Linked DNA regions of Homo sapiens. The protein of the gene in region 2 purifies or fractionates together with the protein of the main gene of each other region. This does not show direct contact. Each region holds a gene or a part of one and is shown on either strand. Other genes may lie near its edges.

What was found.
Region 1: the proteins of IDUA (region 2) and ROBO2 fractionate together in Homo sapiens (co-fractionation; one large-scale study listed by BioGRID). This does not show direct contact.
Region 3: the proteins of IDUA (region 2) and QSER1 fractionate together in Homo sapiens (co-fractionation; one large-scale study listed by BioGRID). This does not show direct contact.
Region 4: the proteins of IDUA (region 2) and IGSF3 fractionate together in Homo sapiens (co-fractionation; one large-scale study listed by BioGRID). This does not show direct contact.
Region 5: the proteins of IDUA (region 2) and TXK fractionate together in Homo sapiens (co-fractionation; one large-scale study listed by BioGRID). This does not show direct contact.

Annotation. Positions count from the first base shown.
Region 1 is NC_000003.12:77,046,585-77,050,103, reverse strand, and holds part of ROBO2 (roundabout homolog 2 isoform 23 precursor), read right to left. Parts: intron 1-3,519. UniProt on the Homo sapiens protein: Receptor for SLIT2, and probably SLIT1, which are thought to act as molecular guidance cue in cellular migration, including axonal navigation at the ventral midline of the neural tube and projection of axons to different regions during neuronal development.
Region 2 is NC_000004.12:997,025-1,000,543, reverse strand, and holds part of IDUA (alpha-L-iduronidase isoform a precursor), read right to left. Parts: intron 2,180-3,519; coding exon of another isoform or gene 1,555-2,179; intron 1,121-1,554; coding exon of another isoform or gene 789-1,120; exon of another isoform or gene 480-788; intron 1-479. Other genes in the region: uncharacterized protein LOC124900646, read right to left, coding at 789-1,120, 1,555-2,179.
Region 3 is NC_000011.10:32,930,795-32,934,313, reverse strand, and holds part of QSER1 (glutamine and serine-rich protein 1), read right to left. Parts: intron 2,572-3,519; coding exon 1-2,571. UniProt on the Homo sapiens protein: Plays an essential role in the protection and maintenance of transcriptional and developmental programs.
Region 4 is NC_000001.11:116,661,217-116,664,735, forward strand, and holds part of IGSF3 (immunoglobulin superfamily member 3 isoform 2 precursor), read right to left. Parts: intron 1-3,519.
Region 5 is NC_000004.12:48,110,244-48,113,762, forward strand, and holds part of TXK (tyrosine-protein kinase TXK), read right to left. Parts: exon of another isoform or gene 3,499-3,519; coding exon of another isoform or gene 3,419-3,498; intron 3,067-3,418; coding exon 2,964-3,066; intron 2,270-2,963; coding exon 2,064-2,269; intron 361-2,063; coding exon 295-360; intron 287-294; exon of another isoform or gene 1-286. UniProt on the Homo sapiens protein: Non-receptor tyrosine kinase that plays a redundant role with ITK in regulation of the adaptive immune response. Regulates the development, function and differentiation of conventional T-cells and nonconventional NKT-cells.

The DNA.
Region 1 (3,519 bases), on a different chromosome or scaffold from region 2:
TTATAATAATCGGATATATCTAAATAAGTTTAATCATATTCTAGCATTTGCTAGTATTTGGAAATATACGTATTATAAAACTTCTAAGTACGACTCTAACCTTGATTTATAAAAACTTATAAACTTTCCTTTATAATGAATAACTCTTAACTCAAGTTTTTTGGAAAGTCAAAATTCTCCCTTTTTGAATCACACTTATGAACATTTTAATTGGTTATAAGTGCTGCAGAGGTTTGGTCCAAATCCCTTAAATTCCAGTCTGGTTTCAACTGGGTGTTCCTTGCTTAAACTTGAAAAGCCTTTCAGTGGGATAGTTGAGTTATATTCCATGTTCTCCAGCTCATTTCCAAAAAGCTTGGAACCAAAGTCTAGGGAAAGAGATCCCACATCAATCCTTACAACAGAAATTAAAAAGTGGCTGTTAACCCCCTCTCCTGAGCTAAAATTTCCATGTTGCATATGGTTCTAGTTATAGTGGCCAGAAACTAAGCACATTGACCTAAGACTATTGTCTCCTTAGTATTAAATTTTTAAAATTCCATTTATTGATAAGGAAAGCCTAAGTACCACTGGTCATTAATGAATGAGAGTGGATGTGAATCATAAGACTAGTTAATTTTGGCTGTCATGCATATCCATAGCCATATCATTGAACCCACACCAAAACACAGATATGCTACATGCATATTAGACAATAGACTGTTATTGTTTTTAAAGATGGATGTTTATGGTTTTGGATAATTCTTTTCAAGCCTAAATTTGTGTGAGTGTGTGTGTGGAGACGGGGCCTCTGTCACCCAGGCAAAAGTGCAGTGGTGTAATCATGGCTCGCTGCAGCCTCAACCTCCTGGGCTCAAGGAATCCTCTCATCTCAGCCTCCCAAGTATCTGAGACCACAAGTGGACACCACCATGCCCAGCTAACTTTTTTTCTTTTTTGTAGAGACAGGGTTTCACTATGTTGCCCAGGCTGGTCTCAAACACCTAGGCTCAAGCGATCCTTCAGCTTCAGCCTCCCAAATTGTTAGGATTGCAGGGGTGAGCCACTGCGCCGAGCCCAGGCTAAATTTTCTTCTTTAAAAATTCTCAGATATAACAATAAATGTTGGAACATTAAACAGAAGTACTTGGGATAATAAAACCTAAGGTTCATGGAGACCTTGGAAATTACACAGTCAAATGAAACCATTTTTGGTAAGGTTCTAAGGCAATTAGAACAATTAACAATCCACTAGGGAAGCTAACAGTGCAGTCCAGAGATCTGGTCACCAAAGGTATGTCACTTCCACAATAGTAATGATATTGTTTTATTCAGGCTATCCTTTCTGATATGCATAACTACTCATTGTGCAAATGTAACTAATGGATAATTATAAAAAGTTATTAGATTCAATGTCTTATACTAAATGAAGGGAAGCTAAGGGGGCTATCTAGAAAACGAATTAGTGAGTGGATACCAAATGTTAATTTTTACTTAGGTCTTCGGTTCTCAAAGTGTTTATTTAGTTTGTCTTACACAAGATTTATCTCCACAGTACGTTATATCAAAGCACCAGGTAAAAATTATCCAGGATGAAATGTAAATCAGCCAACATGAACCAAAATGCAGGCTTACACAAGCATGGTCTACTTGCTAACAAATTGCCATTTGTGTGATTCCTCTCTTGTTTACTATCTTCATTCGTCGCACCTTTCACTTGGGAATCACATGTGTTTTGTAATCAGCTTATGATGCAATGGAAACACACATGTCATAGCACAACTGTCACAGCTGTGTAGGCGAGGCCACCGATAAGTTCCCTTAAGAGGCAACAAAAATTCTTAATCAGTCACCTGAAGACTCACAGCTGAAAAATCTTATTAAAATTGTCCTAACATGCACCCCAATTGTAGTCCATAATTAGTCTGATAGCAAAGTCCTCTTCTAGTTATTTTCCTTGTTCATACTAGGCAGGGAATAATAATCTAATAAAAATACTACTAATTATAACAATAAGTTATGCTTGAGTGGCATTTATAAAGTACACTGTTCATGGCATCATATATATCTTTTTTTTTGAGACGGAGTCTCACTCTGTCGCCGAGGCTGGAGTGCAGTGGCGCGATCTCGGCTCACTGCCAGTTCCACCTCCCAGGTTCAAGCCATTCTCCTGCCTCAGCCTCCCAAGTAGCTGGGACTACAGGCGCCCGCCACCACACCCGGCTAATTATTTTTTTGTATTTTTAGTAGAGACAGGGTTTCGCCGTATTAGCCAGGATAGTCTCGACCTCCTGACCTCGTGATCCACCTGCCTCAGCCTCCCAAAGTGCTGGGATTACAGGCGTGAGCCACCGCGCCCAGCCCATATATATCTTTATATACATCTTTATTTTATATATATATTTATTTATTTATATATATCATTATATATATTTTTTTGAGACGGAGTTTTGCCCGTTGCCTAGGCTGGAGTATAATGGCACAATTTTGGCACTGCAACCTCCACCTCCTGGGTTCAAATGATTCTCCTGCCTCAGCCTCCTGAGTAGCTGGGATTACAGGCACCTGCCACCATGCTCAGCCAATTTTTGTATTTTTTTTAAATAGAGAGGGGGTTTCACCATGTTGGCCAGGCTGGTCTTGAACTCCTGACCTCAGGTGATCCACACACCTCACCCTCCCAAAGTGCTGGGATTACAGGCGTGAGCCACCATGCCCTGCCTATATATCGTTATATTTTTAAAACTATTTTATTTCTCATTATAACTGTATGAGATATACATTATTACCATGCCCATTTTACAGGTAAGGACACTGAGGCATAAAAAGGTTAAATTACTTGTTCATACTCATTCAGTAGTGATTGCTCAGTAGTCTTTCAATAACCATCTTATCCTTCTTCCTTACAGGCAAACTATGTTGCAATCAATCTAGACTTCTTGCCATTTCCTTAGCACCCCTTTGTCATCTTCATGCCATTTTTCTGGTTACTTCTTTTCCTGGAATTCAATTTCCAATCTTTTTGCCCACCAAAATCCCACTCTTCCTCTAAGGTCCAGGTTAAGAGACCCATTTGGTGTTGACCCTTCCCAGATTGTACCAGCTGGAAATCACCTATTCCTTCTCTGAGTTCTCAAGACTATACTGTGTACACCTTCAAACTTCTTACTTATCAGACACTACTTTTTTTATTCTAGTGACTTGAACATTTGGTACCTTCCCTACCAAGTCATGACTTCCTTGAATGTGGGAATATTTTCACAGGTCAGCATGTTCTTCACAGAGCCAAGCAAGTTATGTTGTCAATATGCATGTGTTGAATCAAAGGAATAACCTAAACATATTCAAGCTCATTTTCTCATGGACTCTTCAGAAAATAGCTGGTCATTTTCAGTAACAAGAGCCTGGAATTCTTGTTAAGGAGTTCCAGGGCTAAGAATCCAGAAACAGTCTCTCATAGGCAGAAGCCTGGTACAGAGATGAAGCATCCCTGGAGTCTAGTTTCTGCTCTACCACTAAGTAGCAATGGGATCTGTGACA
Region 2 (3,519 bases):
GGCCACAACGGAGCATGTGGGAGCCTGCAAGGTGCCACACAGGACTCCGATCCCGGCTTCCCGAGGGGCCCTTCCCCTTGGAAAATAACCCTATGAAGGCCTGGTATGAACTAGAGTATCTGTACATGGAGACCCCCCAACCCTACACCATCAAGAGATGGAAAACTTGGGGTGGGGGTTCGGAATGGCTCTGAGGCTCAGTGGCACGAGGCAGGCCAGTCGCGAGCAGCAGGGGCCAGGGGTCAGGAGCCAGGCAGGACCTGGTGGACACCTCACCCTGGTTCTCTGCACCTCCTGGAGGCCCAGGAGTGCCCCATTTCCCCTCCCACACCCCAAGAGGCAACATGAGTGCACAGGAAAGGGAGAAGGGGGCCACCCTGCCACTGCACTTGCAGATGGGCTGAATTCCCATGAGGCCTGCATTCCGAGGGGACAGGCGTCGTCAAGGGTGAAGGGGGCCGCCCTGCCACTGCACTTGCCGATGGGGCTGAATTCCCACGAGGCCTGCATTCCGAGGGGACAGGCGTCGTCAAGGGAGAAGGGGGCCGCCCTGCCACTGCACTTGCAGATGGGGCTGAATTCCCACGAGGCCTGCATTCCGAGGGGACAGGCGTCCTCAAGGGAGAAGGGGGCCGCCCTGCCACTGCACTTGCAGATGGGCTGAATTCCCACGAGGCCTGCATTACGAGGGGACAGGCGTCCTCAAGGGAGAAGGGGGCCGCCCTGCCACTGCACTTGCAGATGGGCTGAATTCCCACGAGGCCTGCATTACGAGGGGACAGGCGTCCTCAAGGGAGAAGGGGGCCGCCCTGCCACTGCACTTGCAGATGGGCTGAATTCCCACGAGGCCTGCATTCCAAGGGGACAGGCGTCGTCAAGGGGGAAGGGGGCCGCCCTGCCACTGCACTTGCGGATGGGCTGAATTCCCACGAGGCCTGCATTCCGAGGGGACAGGCGTCGTCAGGGAATGGGAATCTTTGGTGAAGGGGATACGACAGGGAGTGAGGAGCCTGATGGTCAGCGAGGGACCTCTCTGAGGAGACACCTAAGGCTACCATGCAACGGGACCAGCCAGCAGGAAGACATCCAGGCAGCAGATGGCATCGCCAGTGCAAAGGCTCTGGAACAGGAATGCACACATGACAATCAGGCAGCAGGGAGGCAGCTGGTGGGCCTGAGACAGAATAAGGGTGGATATCATGGGATATGAGGCTCCATGGGGCTCTGGAAGTGACTGCTTTGAGGATGGGACCCTGACCCAGAGCGAAACAAGGATCCCTTTCAAGGTTCTGAGCTGAGCAGTGCCAGGGCATTTTTCTTTTTTCTTTTTTTTTTTTTTGAGACAGAGTCTCACTCTGTTGCCCAGCCTGGGGTGCAGTGGCGCGATCTCGGCTCACTGCAAGCTCCCCCTCCCGGGTTCACACCATTCTCCTGCCTCAGCCTCCTGAGTAGCTGGGACTACAGGCGCCCGCCACCACGCCCGGCTAATTTTTTTGTATTTTTAGTAGAGACGGAGTTTCACCATGTTAGCCAGGATGGTTTCCATTTCCTGACCTCGTGATCCGCCCACCTTGGCTTCCAGAGCATTTTTCAAGGATCCCTCTGGCAGCTCACTGGAGTCAGGGTGGGAGCTGGAAGACTGGCTGGGGGCCATGGGGGTTGCCCAGAGAGGTATGGTGCCCAGACTGGGTGGTGGCTGTGCAGGCTGTGAGCAGAGGGACTGATGAGGTTTGAGGTGAGCTGGGGGGTGAGGTGGGGGGTCGGGGGGTCGTACAGGGCAACTGTGGATTTCAGCTTGGGCAGCTAGGCGGGTGGATGAGCTTGGAGTGAGACTGGTCTCGGTTTTGGCCATGTGGAGTTGGACATCTGAGGGTGAACTGAGTGAGGAGATTGGTGTGCAAGGGTCTGGAGTTGTGAGTGATGCTTCTGGCCTGAGGGAAAGGGAATGGGGTGAATGGAATAGCAGCCAGCCTTGAGCCTGGAGTGAGAAGCAGAGACCAGGCTGGCCAGGGTCTGAGGGCTTCCTGCGGACGCCACGCAGGTGAGCACAGCTGCCCGTGGGGCAGTGCACCTCCTGTGGCAGCTGGCTTTGTGCCGCATCTGCAGTGGTGGGGGATGGGGTTACCACCATGGACCGGAATCTGGCCCTATACAGCTCCCCGTCTGTCAGTCTCCCCATGCCACAGCACCCCCAGCTCCACAGCAAAGGTCTGGACACCTCAACGCCTCCCTTCTGGTCCTCCCATGGTGTACAAGATCAAGGCAGAGCCTTGGCAGGAGTCTACAGCCTTTGGGTGTGGGCTCCTGCTCCGCCCCGCCTCTGCTGGTCCCCACCTGCTCCTGTACCCCGGGCTGGGTGTCCAGCAGGAGCAGCAGGAGTCCCTGGGGTCCACCCCACCCGGCCCCTACCACCTCTCCTCCCCTCCATCCAAAGGACACACTGGTAGCAAAGAAGTATAACTTAAGAGGCACTTGGATAAGAATTAAATGCCCAGAAGGTGCATTCCAAAGTCCCACGGAGTTGGAGTAGCGGGGCACGGTGACCTGGAGGAAAGTGAAGACCCAGCTGGGCTTCAGGTTTTCTCTGCAGAACCCCAAGGCGATAGCCCGGCAGCCCCTGACCCTAGCGGGGGGAGCCCCAGCATCAGAGATGTCCCTGGCCTGACACCCAAGGCGCCTCTGAGTGTCATCTGGCAGGGCCAGCCTCGCAGCGAGGGGAGCCCGGGACAGGGATCCCCGCCCCCAGGCCCAGGAACCCCGGGGTCAGTCCACAGGCCCGAGGGCCCACCCTCCGCCTGGCCCCCATTGGGAGGGGCCTTGAGAGACCGACGCTGGGGAGGGGACTGGGCCGGCGAGATGGAGCGCGCAGCCCACCCCCAGGGCCGGAGACGCAGACGAGCCACCGCCCAGCCCGGGAACGGAAGCCGCGGGGGCGCGTCAGCCCTTGTAGACCCCGCGCGGGGTGTCGCTGGGGCCGCGGCGGCCGCACAACGGGCTCATTCACCGCGCGGCCGCGGCTGAGCGGCCGCCCGGGTCCCCACGTCCCCGCCCCTGGGCCCGAGCGCGTGAGCCGCTAAGACCGCGCGGCTGCCGGGCCTGGTGAGTGCGCGGGGCGGGGCCGCGCGTGCATGGGGGTTCGCAGGCGGTGGGGGGAGACCGCGCGGGGTGGGGAGCAGGGCCGCGCTCTCCTGAGGGTGGGGGTGGGAGTGCGGGGCAGGGGCGGAGGCCGGGCCCGCTGGGCTGGGGGCGCGGGGCGGGTACAGACCCGCCTCTTGGGAGAACCTGCATCTGTGGCCGGGACGAAGGGGACACAGGTGCTAGAGGGTGCGGGCCGGGGCCTCCTCTTCTCCAGACCTCGGAGCTCGCCCACCCGCGGGAGGGTCTCTGGGAATAAACTCGGGTCCGGTCTCAAAGCCCTGTCGGCCGGGCTTCTTCCCACGGGTGGGAGGCAAGGATGCAAGGTCTCCTTTCCCAGTAAATGGACTCCAATGTAAAACGGCTGATTTAAAGACAAAACTA
Region 3 (3,519 bases), on a different chromosome or scaffold from region 2:
AATGAGATTTAGAATCACCATCTTCAACAGCCTGCATGGTTTCATTTGAAGTTGACTTGGAAAAATCAGTAGGTGTAACTCCACAAGCTGCTGCTGTAGCTGCTAAGATATCATCTACATTTGATAAAATATTTCTTTCATCACTAAGAAGCACTGCCTCTGGGAAACACATCGATCCAAGAGAAACAAACTGATTCTTTGAATCATGTTGATTTGTTTCACTAAAATGGCCCTTTGTTGTTAGATGTTGTTGTAATGGTTTTGAAGACTCAGAGAGGTCCATTTTCATAACTTCAGAATTTTGAGGATGGAGTTGCTGCTGAGAATGATCACCATTGCTTTGAATAACATGACCTTCCATCTGAAGGAAGGGATGTACTATTTGTTGAGGGCTTTGAACACGCTGTGCTTGTAAAGATGCCTTTACTTGACCTAAACCTGCCTGCAGTATTGACTGCTGAAGAATTTGTAAATCACAGGCAGAATCTAAAAGGACCTGTGTATTAGGAAGAGATGCCTGATGGCCATGCCCTAAAGCATGATTTGGAATTTGAATCTGAGATGAAGCATTAATTATTTGATCGTGCTGTTCCTGGACCTTGGACTCATGCACCTTAAGTATGAGAGGATGTTGCTGCTTTAAGTCTTTAGTATTCAACCTTATTTGTGGAGTCTGTATTAAATTAGTTGAGTTCTTAAGATCAAGGGTAGCTGCATTATTGACTTGGCCAATTTGTTGGTTAAGTTGTGTCACTGAACCAACAACACTTTCTTCTTTTTTTGATGCTTGCAGAGCAACCCCAATAACTTGATCTTCAAGACGGGAATTACTTCTGATTACACTCTGAGAATATCTGTCATCTGCCTTTGACACCTTATAAGTTGATTCTTGAGCATTAATTTCTCCATCAGATAGCCTTTGGGTTGATGACTCAAGAGATGCTTGTGGCTGCAACACCTGTAACTCTTGCATTGGAAAACCATCTTCTTGCTTTGAAGATGGATACACATCTGAGTCAAGCTTTCTTTCAGCATAAGACTTTGGGTCAGGGGAAGTTATGTTATTTTGTAATGTCTGACAATGAGTAGAGGATGCAAAAGATGATGACTGGACAGCAGGCAAAAACTTCTGGGACTGGGGAGATGATGACTCTTGAGTCTGAACATTTTGGGAAGAATGCATAGAAATATAATTCTGGGTCGGGCTAGAGTCTGGCAAATTCTGAGCCCGAGAGGCAGAAGAATAAGAAAGAGAAGGGGCTGTTAATGTTAGGGACTCCCCTGAAGCATAGCTTTCTGAAAGACTAACAACTGACAAAACTTGTGATTGAGATGAATAGCTAACCTGTGTCTGGCTAACTGGTGATAAACCCTGAGAGTGACCAGATGAGTAACTTTGAGACTGACTTACTGAAGACAGATCTCTTGTTTGAGCAGGGTAATTCTCATTTGTAACTGAAGACAATACCTCTTGCTGATTAGATGAATAATTAAGCGTCTGATTTTCAGGAGTTACAGTCTGAGATGACCCAGAAAAAGTCAATGTTTTATACAAGGGTGGCAATTTCTCAACCTTGCTGGACCTATAAACCTGTGAATGAACAATAGATGGCACATTATGTGGCTGTACTAAACCGTAATTTTGGGACTGACTAACTGATAAAAGGCTTGGTAGCTGCGCTGTAGAATAAATTTGTGCTTGGCCCGATATTACAGAACTCTGATTATGTAAAGGTTTGGAATAGCTTAGTGTTTGCACAGGAGGAATTATACTTTGAGGTTTAGGGGTCTTGGTTGATGTCAGTGGTTGTTCTGTAGAACAGCTTTTTATTTTTGTAGTAGAAGGAGGATACCCTGATGATGGAATCGCAGATGAGTAAGACTGAGCAAGTTCCACTGAGACCTGGGAGGTCTTCTGTTGTAATCCTCCGTTGCTCACCTGAGTGGAATCTCCAATTGGGCTACAGGATAAAGATGACTGCCTGGTTGTTTCCTGAAAATTAACTACACTTGAATTTGATAGATAACTATGTAAGGAGTGCTGTGAACCAGTCAGTTGTGCCTGAATTGACTGGGTACCTGAAGGCCGCTGATGGTGTTTAATAACACTACATTCTCGAAGAAGAGCTCTTTCAATGGAAGCAGTAGAACTAGTAAAGAGAGTTGAACTGTAGGCTTGAGGAGTCTGCTGGGATCCCCCAAGTGCTGAAGGCAACAAACTAAATTGAGGTTGTAAAAGATGGGGTGCAGACTCTTGAGCTGAGCGGTATGTTGAAGACTGAGGTGGTATGCTGTTACTTAATACAGAACTGCCCAGGCGCTCAAATGCCAAAGCAGTTGGAACAGTTCCCTGGGAAGTCTTGATTTGTAGCAAAGGGTCATGATGACTTAAAATTCCATTTGATGTAGTGTTAAAAGTTGAATCCTGAAGCACCAAAGGTGAAGTGGTAGCAAAGTTTCTATTGCTGAAGGTGGTGGGATGCTGATAAGCAGAGAGAGATGGTGGAAGTGTTCCAGTGCTTGGCAAAGGTCCAGTAGCAAACAGCTCAGTTGCTGCTGAGGAATGCATGCCTATGAAGAAAAGGCACAAAGATTTTTATGTAATTATGGCACAATTACTTTATGTTTTCATAGTAATGACTTACATAACCCTCAACTCATCAAAATGTCTTAAGACTGAAAAACCTGACCAGTTAGTTCTGCATGTAAATTTTGAAAATTACATTTCAAAATAGCTAGCTTCTTTCTTTCTTTTCTTTTTTTTTTAAGAGACAGGGTCTTACTCTGTTGCCCAGGCTAGAGTGCAGTCTTGCGATCATAGCTCACTGCAGCCGCAGTGTCCCAAGTAGCTGAGACTACAGGCGCATACTCCCAAACCTGGCTAATTTTTAAATTTTTGTAGAGATGGGGTCTTGCAATGTTGCTCAGGCTATCTTGAACTCCTGGGCTCAAGTGATCCTCCTATCTCGGTCTACCAAAGTGATGGGATTATAGGTGCAAGCCACCACGCCTGGATTAGCTAGTTTTCATAGAGTAAAAATGAAGTTACAATGATATCAGCAATTCATATCTGTAATTGTTATATAATTTATATATAGTTTGATAAGGTCATAGGAAAATGAAGAAATCAGTAAAAATGTACATATCTCTAGTGATTAATTTATCCCAAAGTACCAACACAAAATACCAATGGACAAACCAAAATGTACATAACATTAAAATGGAAAAAAAAAAGCTAAATTGCCTACATCTAACATGATAAATAAATATAAAAAAACAGTGAACTGCAGTTTCTTTTACCAAAATATATTCACTTTAAAAATCTCTTGCATTTCAAGCTTTCACTTCCTATGAACAACTTCCCAATCATAATAGATGCATGTTTATCATGAAAAGTTGATCAGAAATTAACAAAGTACTGTCAGAAAGAGACTGTTAACATTTCAGGACAGCATTTTAGCCACATATAGCAAAAGTAAAAATGGGTTTACCCTTGTGATCTGAAAGTTCTATAGAAAT
Region 4 (3,519 bases), on a different chromosome or scaffold from region 2:
CAGCAGGCGGAGGTTACGGTGAGCCAAGATCGTGCCACTGCACTCCAGCCTGAGCAACAGTGTGAGACTCCATCTCAAAAAAAATAAAATAACTGAACACCTGCTTACTTTGCATGGCACAAGGCTGAGTTCTGGGACTACAGTAATGAACATGACAGATGGTCTTCAAGAATTTTATACAGAAGGTCATGCTATGTAAAGTGTTTAGCACAGTGACTGGCACATAAGCACTCTATAAACACTTTAATACTCACTGATAAAACCACAAAATGTAGTGTTTAATTATATGCTGATTTAGGTTGCTTCCTATGAAACAAACGTTGGTTCATCTAACTCATGCCTTCCTAACAAGCCTTCTTAGAAGCCAGAGGCTCGGCTTCAGAGTCAAACGGAATAGCTTATTAGATGTAAGAACACAGGATTTGGAACCAAATGGTCCTGGCTTCAAAACCCTACTCTGCCACTTTTTAGCTTTGTGACTATGGCAGAGATGGGCAGCTGTCCCCCAAAATCTGTTCTCTCCTTTCCCTACAGTCATAGAATCCCAAGTTTTTCTCAGGACACATGGACCCTCAGGATAAGCATATTTTCCAGCCTTCTTTGCAGCTAAATATGGTCACATGACTAGGTTCTAGCCAATGAGAATGTTAGTGGAAGTGATGTATATAACTTCCAGGAAGTATCCTTACATTAAGAGGTCCTACCCTTCACTAGCCTTTTCTTCCTTCCTGATGGCTGCGGCTAGAAGAGTCATCTTGGACCATGAAGTCATCTTGGGAATAGAGAGCATGCACATGGAGCAAGACAGCAGGAGCTTGGAGCCCTAACACTGTCAGCAATCTATCTTAGGCAAGTGACTCTTTTTTTTTTTTTGAGACAGAGTTTTGCTCATTGCCCAGGCTGGAGTGCAACGGCGCGATCTCGGCTCACTGCAACCTCTGCCTCCTGGGTTCAAGCGATTCTCCTGCCTCAGCCTCCCGAGTAGCTGGGATTACAGGAATGTGCCACCATGCTCGGCTAATTTTTGTATTTTTAGTACAGACGGTGTTTCACCATGTTGGCCAGGCTGGTCTCAAACTCCTGACCTCAAGTGATCCACCCGCCTCAGCCTCCCAAAGTGCTGCGGTTACAAGCATGAGCCACCATGCCCAGCTTAGGCAAGTTACTTAACCTCCCTAAGCTTCAATCTCCCCATCTATAAAAATGTGATAATGCAAGGTATCTATCTTACAGGGTTGTTTTGAAGACTGATTGATATAGTTGGGTCACAGTAAGGGCTAGAGTTAGGAGAGCTGGTATTACTGCCATTATGGAAGTACCAGCAGTCTTGCTGCCATGAAAACCGTAGAAGATGGCAACATCTTAACACAGCCCTGGGTACCTGGAGGTAGCTCAATGATTCTCACAGCTGAAAGGCATCCTAGTAGGCCAAGTCCTCCTGACAAGAATTTCCTTCTCCTGCACCCTTGTCAAATGGTCCCCAGGAAAGGGAAGTGCACTACCTCTGGGACAACTATTAGGACAGTGGTGTTTGTTCATCCATAAATCACAATCCTCATCCCCTTCTTTCAGAACCCTTCTCCTGATTGCTCCAAACCATCTCACTTTTCTCTGCCTCCTCTTTCTCCTCTGCCTTTGATCACTCCAGCCCTGCCTCTGAGGTCACACCCATAGTACTTCAAAGTTTCTTTCAATCCCTTTCAGAAGCCTTTTCTAACTAACTGGGAAGTAAGAGATGGCTTCCTCAGCCTTACCGTATTCAAAGAAGAGACTTCCCAAACTCTACAAATGAACTTCTCTCCCTCTGGAGCAGAACACAAATGATCATTTGCCATCTACAGGTTCTCAGATGTCCCAATCTCCTACATTTTTCATTGCTAACACTTTTAAAGCTATTTAATCTTGTTTGCAACATCAGCACTGGTCTGGGAGGTATATAACTCTTCCTGGCTACACAAAATCAAAATGTGCTGTATGTGTCTAAAGCTTATATTCATCTTTCCTGAGAATTTCCTTCCTGTTCTTACAGACACAAATCCTATGCTCTCTTTCCCACATTGCTGTCATCTTCCCATGTCACTGTCACTCATGCAGGCTGCTCCCAGACAGAGGCACTTTTCCAGTCACCCTTCCCTTCCTACCACTGTACCAGCCTCTATTCTCTCTCTAATCTTCTGCCCCTCTGGCCACATCTATCCTCAAATAGAGACTTTACTACCCTCATGGTTCAACCAGAGCCAGGCTTAAATGGCTTTGTAATTGGAACCAAGGGTTGTGGTGGCAGAGCCATGCACTGCCACCACAACCCTTATTGGGTGAGGCACCTAGGGTTAGGACAGAAGGAAACAACACACAGAGGTCAAGGGGGTAGGTACAAAGACAAAGGGTAGGACAAAGACATAAGCAGGAATCAGTATCCCAACAGACAGAAAAGAGGAATCTGATTCCAATCCCAGACACTGGCAAAGGACAGGTGCAGAAAAGCACAGGTCTGTCATGTTGAGGGAGATGAAAGCGTCTCCGAGATTTACCCTGTATACCCCTCACATACTGTCCAGGGTTTTCTAACTAAAATTGCCATTTCTAGAGGCTGGTACCTGCATCGGTCTCACTTTCAGAGCACTTAGCCTTATCCAACTTTTTTAAACAAAATTTTATTCCAGGCATGTGACCTATATGGGCTTAAAACCTTGGGATTCTTCGCTGTTTTAAATTCATACTACACATTAATTCACATTATGCAGCAAGAATGCTGACACATGAACCAGACCACATCAGAAGACAAGCAGGAAATAAGACCCCAACATGGGTTTTGCTCCCTCCCCAAACGCCTTCTACCTCTCCCAGATTAGTAAAGTAGTAGCCAGGCCTCCTTCCTGCCATACTGAGAGCCATCAGGTGAAGAGAAAGATGAGGTTCCACCAGTGGGGCTCCAAATCAGGCAGAGATCCACATGCATGCCTACAGTTCCAAACCTTCCCACTTCAGCCTGCATCTGGATGTCTGCCACTGTGCCCCTTTAAAGCCACCTTGATGCTCATTTTCCTCCATGGCACCTGTTTACACATGAAGATGAGGGTGGAGGGAAAATGACAGCACCTGCCAGGTGCCAGGGCCCGAGCTCCACTCCACAGAGTGGCCCAGAGAGCGAACAGCAGGGGGACCAGCATGCAGCCTTACATTACTTGAGCAGCCAGAAGAAACAAAAGGCACAAATGTCACATTGCCTTGTTTTCCCATTGATGGTTACTTCTCCTGCCCTGGGCCCCACCCTGCCACTCAGCCCTCTTTCCCGCCTTAGCCACACACCCCACCCCACATCCAAACCTCCCCAAGGGCTTTCCTTGTTTGTGTCCTGTTGAATCCACATGAATCACTAATTGCTGATTTAAACCCAGACACTAAGCGAATGACACATACAGTACAACAAATACAGATCCAATATGAAGAGACTGGCAAATGAAGGGCTCCCTGCCTTCTTGACTCTGCCTGAGCATACAGGTGACATGGAGACACTGC
Region 5 (3,519 bases), about 47 Mb from region 2:
TTTTTAAAGTAAATTTTCCAGTTAAGATATATAGTAAAATAAGTGCCAGATGAGTGTTTGGGTTCAGGCTGTCACTGTTAAAACAGAAAAAGTGGCTATACAAAACAGAACAAAAATAAGTATAAGGAAAAGAAGTTTCTGAATCAACCATGATAAGGATCAAACGTCTCTTTATTATTAACGCTGTCAAATGTGTTACTTTTTTTTCCTTCTACAGACCCAAAACAGTATCTATACTTACAAGCTGCCAAAATGTCCCTGATTTTCATAGGTTATATTTTGGAGAAGACTTACTCATATATTTCTAAATTAGTTATTTTGTTTTCAGTCACATAGTTGCTTGGGATTAAGCCTTCATTCCTACAACAAAAGAAAAAGCAAAAATCAAAATGCTTGGCATGTTTGTGGCATTATCATGGCAACAATCCTTTTAAAACCTCAAGGATGTAGGGGGGAAATCAAATTCATTTTACTGATTAAATTGTTAAAAGGAGAAAAAAAAGTTTTTTTATTTCTAACTCAACAAAAATCTCTGTACAAGGAATGTATTAAGATGCCAACTTGTAATGTGAGTAGTTTAAGAGGTTTTATGACCCCACAATCTTTTCAGAGAGAAAAAGGGGCACTTAAATGATCATCTGATATCATAGTGATTATGTTAAAAACACAGCAATTACAAAGACATCGACTTCATTCTTTTCAATTGCTGAGGAGTATTCCATAGCATAGGTATTCTAGTTTAGCTACTTTGCTAGTAGAAGCAACGCTGTAAAGAAATCCTTGAACACGCCTTCTTGTACAGAAGAATATTTCTCAAAGACAGATAGCAAAGACGGGAATTGCTAAGTCACGGGATATGTACATCTTTCAGGATATGCAACAAATTGTCCTCAAAGGAGGATATACCAACTTACACACCTATCAGCATGGTAGAAGTTTCACTTTTCCTATACCTTAACCAACATTTGAAATTACAAAAAGATCTCCAAGACATATTATTGAGAAATAAAAGTAAGTTGCAGAATCATGCAGAAAGTAAGATAAGATTTAGGTAAATGAATTCTACAAACAATACCATATATTTTGATATGTGCATGTAAGTATACTGAAAATAATCTGAAAATGGATAATAGTATTTACTTTTGGGGAGACACTTGGGTTTGGAGGTAGTGGCAAAGCAGAATTTTGACATTAATGTTTGCATATTATATATTTTTAAAAACTCTATTCACTTACTGTGAAATAAAAAATTCAATTTTTAAGTCTGAGGCATGCCAATAGTATACCCGCAGGTGTGGCTAATTACACAGTCCTGAACCTACTAATGCCTCTTTTTCCACTGAAAAGTCTCCACCACATGTTGAGAACTGTTAAGAGAGCCACATCATTGAGAAAATGTAGTTGGAGAGGTATGTAATTTACATGCTTATAATACTTAGATACTTAAAATCTCCAAATCTTGGCAAATATCAGAAATCAATGCCAGCCTTCTCTCTCAGGAAGTCCAGATATTCCTCAGAATTCTTCTCAACTCAGGACTCCAGTCAGGCATTAACCATCTGTTGCAATTGGCACAATGAAACCTATCTGCATCCCAGGGTCTTTTTTCTTTCTAATCTAATTCAGCAGCGACTGCAATGTTTGCTTTCAAAACTAGTCATTCTAGAAACATAAAAGTGAATAAAATACTATTTCTGTTCTTACCTTAGAGCTTAACAGGAAAAAACTGACAAATTCCCAAATGAAAGCACAAATTAGAATAAGAACCTACATTGTCAGAATTATTATTTCCATTGTACAAATAAAGAAACAAAAACTCAGAGACGGTAAGTGACTTGCCCGGGGACACACAATAGTAAGCGGCAGCATCAGGATGTGAAGCCAGGTGTATCTGGTTCTGAGACTCTGCCTGAAATCACTGTTCTCTCATTCTCTCACACATCCTGGGGGAGAGGGGACAGATTCCATTTCATGCAGAGGGAAGAGTTATAAGCCTGAGTCACTAAGTAGTCTTCTTTGTGTTGGAAGAATTGGATACTGACTAAGTCATGTAAGTGTCTTACCCCAAACGGTCTCTTGCCTTCCACCAGTGAGGATTGTATTTCTCCAGTATCAGGTATTCTTCTGCTCTCCTTAAGGCTAAATTACAGGGTTCTCTGGGCAGAAAATCATAAAGTGCCTTGACTTGGATCTTCTCTTCAGCAACCTCAGAGGGTGGGAGGGGAGGCAGTGGCTTTCGTTTTGACGGCTGCACACGGCCCGTGTTGGACTGTGAAAACCAATAAGTGAGTTGTTTTACTATCATTTTAATAATTTGTACTAAAAAATATAGGGACAAAGCATATTTGCCTTCTGCCTCACTTTTCTTATCCAGCTACACCAAGGCAGAAGCCAGGATGAGATAAATGTAGAAAAGGACTAACTATAAAACTCCTTTAGGATCCAGCAATACACTCATCATTTTGTACACTTTTGAGATCACAAGTTCTCTTGACAGCATTTTACTGGATTTTTTTTCATATCAAAATTTTCAAAAGATGATGTACTCCTCTTCAATAGTTTTACCTTGTTTTAAGGATTTTTTTTCTCCTTAAAAGAAGAAAAATGGCCTTTTTCTTTTTATGTGGTGGCAGTTTGTGCTTGGGTTTACCATACTTCCTAAGAATGCTGTTTCTCACTGAAGTGAAAATTAATCTCAGCCTCAAAATGACAGAAGCCAGAATATGTTTTTTCCCACTCATTGCCCATTTTCAAGTTCTGCCTTTAAATATAAGTAGCCTATTTTAACTGGTCTTTTCTTTTTCCTTTTACTTTCTTCTAGAACATTCCTTCACAAATTACTGAGCACTTATTTTATGCCAAGCAGGATACTAGATTCTGGGCAACAAACAGCACCTCATGAATGAAGACTCTAAAAAGACAACCTTCTCCATTCCCCTCTTGCCTGTCAAAATGATACTTACTTGCTTCTTATTTGACAATTGGCTGAGCCACGGCCTGCGACGCTGGGTGTATTTTTCTGGAAGCTCTTCATCTGTGCTCAGGCTTATCTGTGTTCTCATTTGTCTGACATTGAAAAGCAATCATGTTACAAATAATTATTTGTACAAAAGTTATCTATACATCCACTAGATTTTCACAGAAATAGCAGAAAAATCCAGGTCTCTTTCCAACTCCATTTTCATTTAGAAGGCTTCCTAACTCCATCTCCCTGGGCAAATTACTGGTTTTAAGAACTTAAGTTTCCTTCTCCAGGAACTAGAGGTGCTAAGAGCATAGAGTTGTTATAAAATAAAATTGAGAAAACATGTCACATTCCCAGTAGAGTCTGGTGCATCTTCAGGGCATAAAGTTATAATCATTGTAATGAAAACTTACTCCATATCTGGCTCAGTGTTTGTCATTTTATATGCATTACCTCATTTGATGGTGTCTTTTTGTTATAAATAGACATGGTATAGTGATTAGGAACAAGAGTTTGAATCCCAGCTCCACCATTTCATAGTGTGGCCTTGGGTA